2 separate regions of the Homo sapiens genome follow, and region 1 is linked to region 2. The links come from fine-mapping of genetic effects on gene expression. A gene starts in region 2. The other region holds a variant in brackets. All regions are shown on one strand. Distances are between the middles of the regions. Region 1 overlaps UGT1A8 (UDP glucuronosyltransferase family 1 member A8). Region 2 holds the start of UGT1A8 (UDP glucuronosyltransferase family 1 member A8).

The links. PIP is the estimated chance that this variant, and not a neighbour inherited with it, causes the effect. A credible set is the group of variants that fine-mapping cannot tell apart.
Region 1: its variant is the best candidate, but not a certain one, in a credible set for the expression of UGT1A8 in transverse colon (GTEx, PIP 0.53).

Annotation. Positions count from the first base shown.
Region 1 is chr2:233,753,797-233,758,191 of GRCh38, reverse strand. The region is part of intron 1 of UGT1A8 (UDP glucuronosyltransferase family 1 member A8); the gene reads right to left. The region is part of intron 1 of UGT1A10 (UDP glucuronosyltransferase family 1 member A10); the gene reads right to left. All of the region lies in intron 1 of UGT1A9 (UDP glucuronosyltransferase family 1 member A9), which reads right to left. All of the region lies in intron 1 of UGT1A7 (UDP glucuronosyltransferase family 1 member A7), which reads right to left. It also overlaps UGT1A6, UGT1A5, UGT1A4, UGT1A3, UGT1A and the pseudogene LOC100286922. Among named protein-coding and RNA genes, the nearest start is that of UGT1A1, 4.3 kb to the left of the region's middle. The variant G/C (reference allele first, on the strand shown) is at 1,957.
Region 2 is chr2:233,615,399-233,619,793 of GRCh38, reverse strand. It overlaps UGT1A8 (UDP glucuronosyltransferase family 1 member A8), which reads right to left and starts at 2,161. Exons shown (of 5, transcript NM_019076.5): 1 at 1,232-2,161. The coding sequence starts at 2,086. It also overlaps UGT1A.

The DNA of each region.
Region 1 (4,395 bases), 140 kb before region 2:
CAATCCAATTAATATCTGCTCTGAAACCAAAGCAGAACCCATTGCTAATTCCCTCATCTGCCAAATATTTATGGAACGTGTGAGCCCTACTGGATGGCAGTCACTATGCTAGGAACTAGGCCCAGAAAGTCAAGTTAGAAATGGTCCTTGCCTGAAAGGAGGGGTCAGGTAGACAGAGACAAACTCATGACCAGGCAATTACAGGGGATGGTGCTCTAGGGGCTGAGAAATCACACAGCAGGGCAGCAATATGATGGTCTTGCTTTGGGGGCTGCTAAAGAGTGACACGTCCATGGAAAGTGTTTCTGGAACCCTTTTGAAGCTACTTTCTTTTTAAGCTGAAGACATAAGTTAGTAGGCCACCATCAGACACACTACCAGCTCCTTTCATCTCCTTTCATCAAATCAGAATGACAGGCTTATTACTAAAGGAGCAACATAAACATGTCCAGTGCCCTGTAGATCATCTACAGGACCCTCCCGGGAAGCAAAGCCACCTTCCTTGAATCCCTTGAATTCCTTGAATTTCCAAAATCCCAGAAAAACAGCATTTTGTTCTGTTCTGCCTTGTATCTTTTAGCAGTTTGCATATCTGTCCTTGCTATTAGACTATAGCTATATCATATATACATATATATATATATATATATATATATTCCTTACAGGCAAGATTTTGGCTTTGGAATCATGCTATCACTCAGGTGCCAGTCCATGGTTTTGGAGACAGTAAGCGCTCTGGACATGTTTCTGTATAGAAGTGACTTTTCTTCTCTTTTCGTTCTAGACCCTGCATCCAAGCCAGCAAGTAAGTGCTGAATCTGGATGTTTCTACCACTGTCTCTCAGACCCAGCTGTCATGGTCCCATTTCAGGGCCCCAGCCCCCCTGTCCCCCAACCCCCAGCTGTCCCTTCTGAATCATTGCATCGGCTGCCACCTGAATAACCCCACCTCACCACCACTTCTGGAACCTTGGTCAGCAGCTTCCTGGGCACAGAAAATTCAGAGTCCTCTGCCTTGCTCTCAAAACTCTGGGATAGACCCCAGCCCACCTGTCCAAGCTCATTCCTCCTCTCTAGCCCTTCTGCTTGCCCCCTCCCTCTGCCTCTTACCCTCTAGCCATTCTGGATCCCTTGCTGTTCCCCAAACTTCCTTTGATGTTCTCAAATTGCTTTGTTCAAACTGAACTCTACCCTTGGCCAGCTTACTATGACTGTTCATTGCGTGCTTACCAAGTGCCAAGTCCGGGTTTCAGGTTATGTAACTAGAGGTTATATAAACTCAGAAGTTTGTTCTGGTGAGATAACACATCCTCATTACACCTAATACCCTTTATGAACCGTTAGAATGTTCTTTGGTTAATCATTTTCCCCTTGGAATTGAGTGACCTTTACTAGTGTATTGCCCCACAATTTATCAAAGCAAAGAATCCAGTGTCAAAAAGAGAATAAGGAGGAGGTGAAGAGAACTCAGATCTCAAAAAAAGTCCCCCCAAAATTCATCGTCATTATATAGCAGTTCTAGCGGAAATAATCACTGCATCCCATGTTTATCCCCAGTGCTATACACACGGCCTGCAAGTCTTAATGGTTTCGATACAGTAAATAGTGCTGTATTTCCTTTTGTCTGAGAGGATCTCCCTGGTTGTTTTAGCAGTCAAGAAAAGTGAATAACATGCACATTTGACCCTCCATATACTTGGGCTTCACATCTGCAGATTCAGCCAACAGCAGATTGAAAATATTTGGGGGGAACAACAATGAAAAAAAAACAGTACAAATAATACAAATAAAAAACCAATACTGTAAAACAACTATTTACATAGCATTTACATTTATTAGGTAAAAGTAATCAAGAGATGACTAGAGGTTTAAAGGAGGATATGGGTAGGTTATATACAAATACTGTGTCATTTTATAAAAGGAGCTTGAGCATCTAGATTTTGGTATGGGGAAGGA[G/C]GGTTGTCCTAAACTAATCCCTTCAGAATACCAGGGACTACTCTGCTAGACTAGCGATTCTCAAAGTATGAGCCAGGAAATCCTAGGGATCCCCAGTAATTTTTCAGGAGAATTTTACAAAGTCAAAACTATTTCCGTAATAATGTTACTTGATTTTCTCATTGTCATTCTCCCACAAGTGTACAGTGGAGTTTTCCAGAAGCTACATGGGGGATGTGTAATATCACAATAGATAGAATGCAGAAGCTGACATGAGAATCCACCTCTCTATAGAGCCAAGTACTAAAGAGAGAGATGCAAAAACTGTAAAACGATGCCACTCTTCTCACTACATTTTGTCTCAAAAAAAGTTACATAAAAAGGTTTGTTAGTGTGTCATGGGTTTATTCTTCTTAAATTGCCCAATGAATATGTCTTTTTAATTCTGTTTTAATCTCTAATGCAGTACATATGATAGGCATAATCCAGATGAACAAAAGCAAATGGGCACCGGGGCTGGAACGTTGGAGAACCGCAGTCCTAAACAACAGGATGTCTTCAGCCCCGGTCAGACTAAACTCACTCCCACCACCCTCTTCCCTCCTGTGGCCGAGGAAAAAGACTGATATAAAGCCTACTTTAAGAAAAACAGTTCTTCAGGCAGCCAAAGTCAAGGCCCTCTCTTTTCCCCAACCTCTTTTTCCCATCCTTTTTGGAGACCATGGCTGGTTGGAGGCCGGAGTGGGCGGGGCCTGGTCTTGGAGCATCACAGGGCCTCACAGAGCCTCACAGAGAGCAGGGCCAGTCCCAGGAGCACTGCATCTTGGGATGCGAGGCGCTCACAGGCCTCGGCCAATGAGATGTGGCTGCGTCATAAGGGGCGGCCCTCCAGGCGGCCCAGGTCGCCAAGCCTCTGACCTGTGCGCGGGTGCTGGCAGCCTTGCCGCTCGCTGTGCCAGTGCCCCGCAGGCTCTTTGGCAGTCCAGCATAGTGGACTACTACGAGGTGCTGGGAGTACCCCGGTAGGCCTCGTCCGAGGGTATCAAGAAGGCGTACCGCAAGCTGGCGCTCAAGTGGCACCCCGACAAAAACCCCGAGGACAGGGAGGAAGCGGTGAGAAGATTCAAGCAGGTGGCTGAGGCCTACGAGGTGTTGTCGGACGCGTAGAAACGCGATATCTATGACCGCTATGGCGAGGCGAGGGCGGAGGGCGGCTGCGCAGGCGGCAGGCCCTTCAAGGACCCCTTCGAGTAGGTCTTCAGCTTCCGTGACCCCGCCGAGGTCTTCAGGGAGTTCTTTGGCGGCCGGGACCCATTCTCCTTTGACCTCTTGGGAAACCCGCTGGAGAATATTTTGGGGGGTCAGAGGAACTCCCTGGGAAGCAGAAGCAGAGGGTCTGCACCCCTTTTCTCTGCCTTCAGTGAATTTCCAGCTTTTGAGGGTGGTTTTTCTTCTTTTGATACAGGATTTCGTTCCTTTGGCTCCCTGGGAAGTGGGGGCCTTTCTTCCTTCTGCATGTCCTACGGTAGTGATGGGACAGGCAGCTTCAAGTCCATGTCGACTTCCACTGAAATAGTTGATGGTAAAAAAATCACCACCAAGAGAATCATTGAGAATGGCCAAGAAAGGGTGGAAGTGGAGGAAGATGGAGAGTTGAGTTAAAGTCCTTCATAATAAACGGCATAGAGCAGTTGCTCCCCATTGACACCAAGTAATTCCAGTCCACATTTGCCTTTAAGCACATCTGGAGGAATAGCGGACTTTTTTTAGGATTGAAAGTGAACTTTACTTTCAGAACAGCTGTACCCAAGAATTTATAAACACTTTATGCCAATGCCTGTCTTTATTGTTGGGACTGCACGGATAGGACCTCTGTTTGTCTTTCGATCATTGTAAATATCTGTATGCAATTTGCTATTTATTAAACTTAAGCCTGAGGCAGACAATGATTATTTCCTAGTGCTAGGACAGAATGTTCATCTCAGCACTTTGAGCCTTACCTTTTTCCGTTGGGAAAGTGTGAGCCAGGTGGTTTGCTCTAAATCATTTGACTTCAATGTTTTACTGTGTGGTGGTGAAATCTATGAATATATTAATACTCTGGCTTAATTTAATGATGGCTTTTAATTGCACATAAATGCTCGTGATGTAGGAAGAGTTGACCATTATTTAGATAAAAGGTTAAACCCAGGCTTTATAAAAGCAGGTAAACCTGGCAAAGTGGATGCATTCGTTTCCTATCATGGCTGTAACAAATTACCCAAACTTGGTGGCTTAAAACAACACACGTTATTCTCTTAATATTTTGGAGGTCATACATTTGAATCCCATATCACTGAGCTGAAATCGGTGTAAGAAGCATGTTCCTTCTGAAGGCTGAGGACAGACCTTGGGGTTATGTGGTTGGTCAATGATATACTAGGACTGTCTTCAGCCCTAACGTGGTTCTCCAACTATGGT
Region 2 (4,395 bases):
CTAATGCATACTACAAAATAATAAGAAAAGTTAGTAATGTGGCTGGATACAAGATACATACGCAAAAACCAAAACTTTAATTACCAATAGTCAGTTAATTGTAGAAATGGAAAAATTACCCTGTAAAAAAATAGTTTCAAAAATCATAAAATGCCAAGGAATAAATGTTAATAACAAACATAAATGCTTATATAGTGAAAATTTTTATTTATGTATATAAAACAAGACCTGAATAAATAGTGAGACACACATATTCCTGAACAGGAAGATATAATAGCAAAAAGATGCCAATCTTCTCAATTCAGGAAAACCCTCTAACCCTACATGTAGGACTCTAGTCTACTAAGATAAAAGCAAGAATATAGAAATATATTCACACAAGGAAATTATTAAAGAATGTTTACACAGCCTTATTCATAAAAGCAAAAATGGAAAATGCCTAAACATATATCAATATTAATTGGTTTAAAAAACTACATAGCATCCAAAGTAAAGACTTTTATGCAATTATGAAAAGAACTTGTCAAATCTGTCTGTATTGGTGTATAAAGGAATCTACAATTTATTGGCAAATAAAAAATGCAAGGTAAAGAAGAATATGTCCAGCACAGCATAAAAGTTTATTTTAACAAAATAGGTATGAGAATTTACATTAGATATTGCATATAAATGAAACTTTTTTTATACTGAAAAGAATATACACAAAACTGATAAGAGCATTTCCTCTAGGGGTCAGAAAACTTAGGAAAAAGGGGAGTTTCATTTCTTGCTGTGGTTTTTGGTACTTTTCTAAACACGGTACTCAAAAACGTGGGCTAAATATGATCTATAATTTTTAAATTAAATATATACACCTAAAATACTTTTTTTAATGAAAAGAATGTATGCAAAACTGCTAAGAGCATTTGCTCTAGGGGGTCACATAGAATTAGCAAAAAAGGAAAGTTCAATTTCTTACTGTGGTTTTTGGTACTTTTCTAAACATGGTACTCAAAAATGTAAGCTGAATACGATCTACAATTTTTAAATTATATACACACACCTTCAAGAAGGGCAGTTTTATAAAATTTGATAACTGATGAGTACATAAATTGGCACAAAATAATCTGTTAAACTGGAAAGAAATTTGAAATGCAACAAATGAAAATGTCAAATCACAATTCAGTAAGGAATCTTTTTTTAATTTCCAAAGCCAGATTATTCCTAATGTGCTAAAGGAGAGGTGACTTACCATAGGCAATGGCTTTCCCTGATGGCAGTTGATACCACCAATGAAGATCATATTGGGCATCACGGGTTTGGGATAGTCCAAAACAAAGTCTGTTCGCAACAACCAAATTGATGTGTGGCTGTAGAGATCATATGCTGTGACAGGTGTTTGGAGAATTTCAGAGGCTATTTCTAGGGCATTTTTGGAAAAATACTGGCAAAATAAATGTTCCTCCAAGTGCATGATGTGGTTCCGTACTCTCTCCTTGAAAGTCATGGCATCTGAGAACCCTAAGAGAATTCTGGGGACATAGGAAAGAGGAGCAGGGCACTGTGCACCTTCTTCAAGATAGTGGCAAGCTATTCCCCTGGCGAAGACCACAGAGGGGAGGGAGAAATATTTGGCAACAATTAAGCCACAGGCATCAAAAGGATCAAGAAACACCGCATCAAAAGAACTCTCCTTTAAGTATTCTACTAATTTTCGGTCATTAAACAAACTCCTGCAATGCGAAAAAAATAAGTTAAAAAAACCATTGGATGAACTCAGAAATAGAGAAAACAAACTTCGTACTTGTGCTTTCCATTGAGCATCGGCGAAATCCATGAATTCCCGGTCCAGATCCTCCAGAGTGTATGAGGTTGAGTAAGTCTTCACTGTGCAATTCAGTGATTTTCCCAGTTGCCAACTCACCTCTGGCATGACTACAACCACCTCATGCCCCCTGAGGATAAGTTTCTCCACCACCGACTGCATGGTGAACCAGTGACTCCCATCCATGGGCACTACCAGCAGCTTCCCTGCCTCAGCAAAGCCACAGGTCAGCAGCAGAGAAACACATAGGGGAATGGGGCTGGTCCACCCTGTGCGAGCCATGAGAGAACTGCAGCCCGAGCCAGCAGCTGGGATTCTAAGCTGCTATGATACAGTAGGCGGAAGAACTACAGGCACAAAACCTGACCCCAATAGAGGGCGTGTATTTATCCTGTCATAAAAAAAAAAAAAATCACACTCACTGCCAATGATTTACTCATAAGAACAGGAATACATGAGTATCATTTTTTGAGATACCTACTTGTATGTATCTCATAAGAGTACTATAAGAGTAGCTTATAGTCTCTGCCTTGGACAGATCATGCCCAGTGCTGTAACGTGAGTTTAGAAACAAAATTACTAAGCAATGCTTTAGGACCTTGAAGATTCAGAAAGATAAAGTGAAAGTAAATTTGAATAAAGCTAATATTTTTGGAATTCATCCCAAAGCAAAATTTAGATTTTAACTTTAGCCAACCAAATACTCTCTGTCCAGAAAGAAATTGGTATCCTATGTTCCAAGGAAAGACAGCAAGGCCCCTTAGCACCGACTTCCCAGCTGGCAAGAAATTGGGGCTCACCTGCATCTCTGCAATGCATAATCATTGCTGGTTGTCTTCTGCCATATCCAAACCCTGAGAGGCCTCTGAAATGCCGAAATGACATTGACAACCCTGCCTCCATGGACCATACCAGGGACTTGATGGAAAGTGACCATCACCTATTTTAATGACTTTCCTCAGATACATCACATGCAGTGGGGAGTCTCTAGCCCAGTCTTTGTGCGAGCACTCTGCCGGGCTGCCTTTCTGTGGCCGCTCTACTTCCACATTCTAAACATGCCATCAATCCAGTGCCCTCCTTCAGGAAAATATGTACTTGTCTCCCTCAGTCTACTGGGCACTCCCTGAGGTCAGTGGTGATGTCATCTTTGTGTTTTTACCCTCCTTTCACAGTAGCCATGCTATGCCTTTGATATAATTTGTATGTTTGTCCCCTCCATATATCATGGTCAAATATAATCCCCAGAGTTGAAGGTGAAGCATGGTGGGAGATGTTTGGATCATGGGCATGGTTCCCTCATGAATGGCTTGGCACTGTCCTCCCAATAGTGAGTGATTTCTCAGGAGATCTGGTTGTTTAAACGTATGTACCAAAAACACTCTTTAGGATATTATCCAGGAGAACTTCTCCAGGCTAGCAAGACAGGCCAACATTCAAATTCAGGAAAAACAGAGAACACCACAAAGACACTCCTCGAGAAAAGCAACCCCAAGACACAGAATCATCAGATTCATTAAGGTTAAAATGAAGGAAAAAATGTTAAGGGCAACCAGAGAGAAAGGTCTGGTTACCCACAAAGGTAACCCATCAGACTAAAAGCAGATATCTCTGCAGAAACCCCACAAGCCAGAAGACAGTGGGGGCCAATATTCAACATTCTTAAAGAAAAGAATTTTCAACCCAGAATTTCATATCCAGCCAAACTAAGCTTCATAAGTGAAGGAGAAATAAAATCCTTTACAGACCAGCAAATGCTGAGAGATTTTGTCACCACCAGGCCTGCCTTAAACAAGAGCTCCTGAAGGAAGCACTAAATATGGAAAGGAAAAATGAGTACCAGCCACTGCAAAAACATACCCAGTTGTAAGGACAATTGACACTATAAAGAAACTGCATCAACTAGTGGGCAATATAACCAGCTAGCATCATAATGACAGGATCAAATTCACACATAACAATATTAACCCTAAATGTAAATGGGCTAAATGCCCCAATTAAAAGACACAGACTGGCAAATTGGATAAACAGTCAAGACCCATCGGTGTGCTGCACTCAGGAGACCCATCTCACGTGCAAGACACACATAGGCTCAAAATAAAGGGAGGGAGGAATATTTACCAAGCAAATGGAAAGAAAAAAAAAGCAGGGGTTGCAATCCTAGTCTCTGATAAAATAGACTTTAAATGAACAAAGATCAAAAAAGACAAAGAAGGGCATTACATAATGGTAAAGAGATCAATGCAACAAGAAGTGCTACCCATCCTAAGTACATATGCACCCAATACAGGAGCACCCAGATTCATAAAGCAAGTTCTTACAGACCTACAAAGAGACTTAGACTCCCATACAATAACAGTGGAAGACTTTAACACCCCACTGTCAATATTAGATAGATCAATGAGACAGAAAAGTAGCAAGGATATTGAGGACCTGAACTCAGCTCTGGATCAAGCAGACCTACTAGACATCTACAGAATTCTCCACCCCAAATCAACAGAATATACATTCTTCTCATCACCACACTGCACTTATTCTAAAATTGACCACATAATTGGAAGTAAAACAGTCTCTCAGACCACAGAGCAATC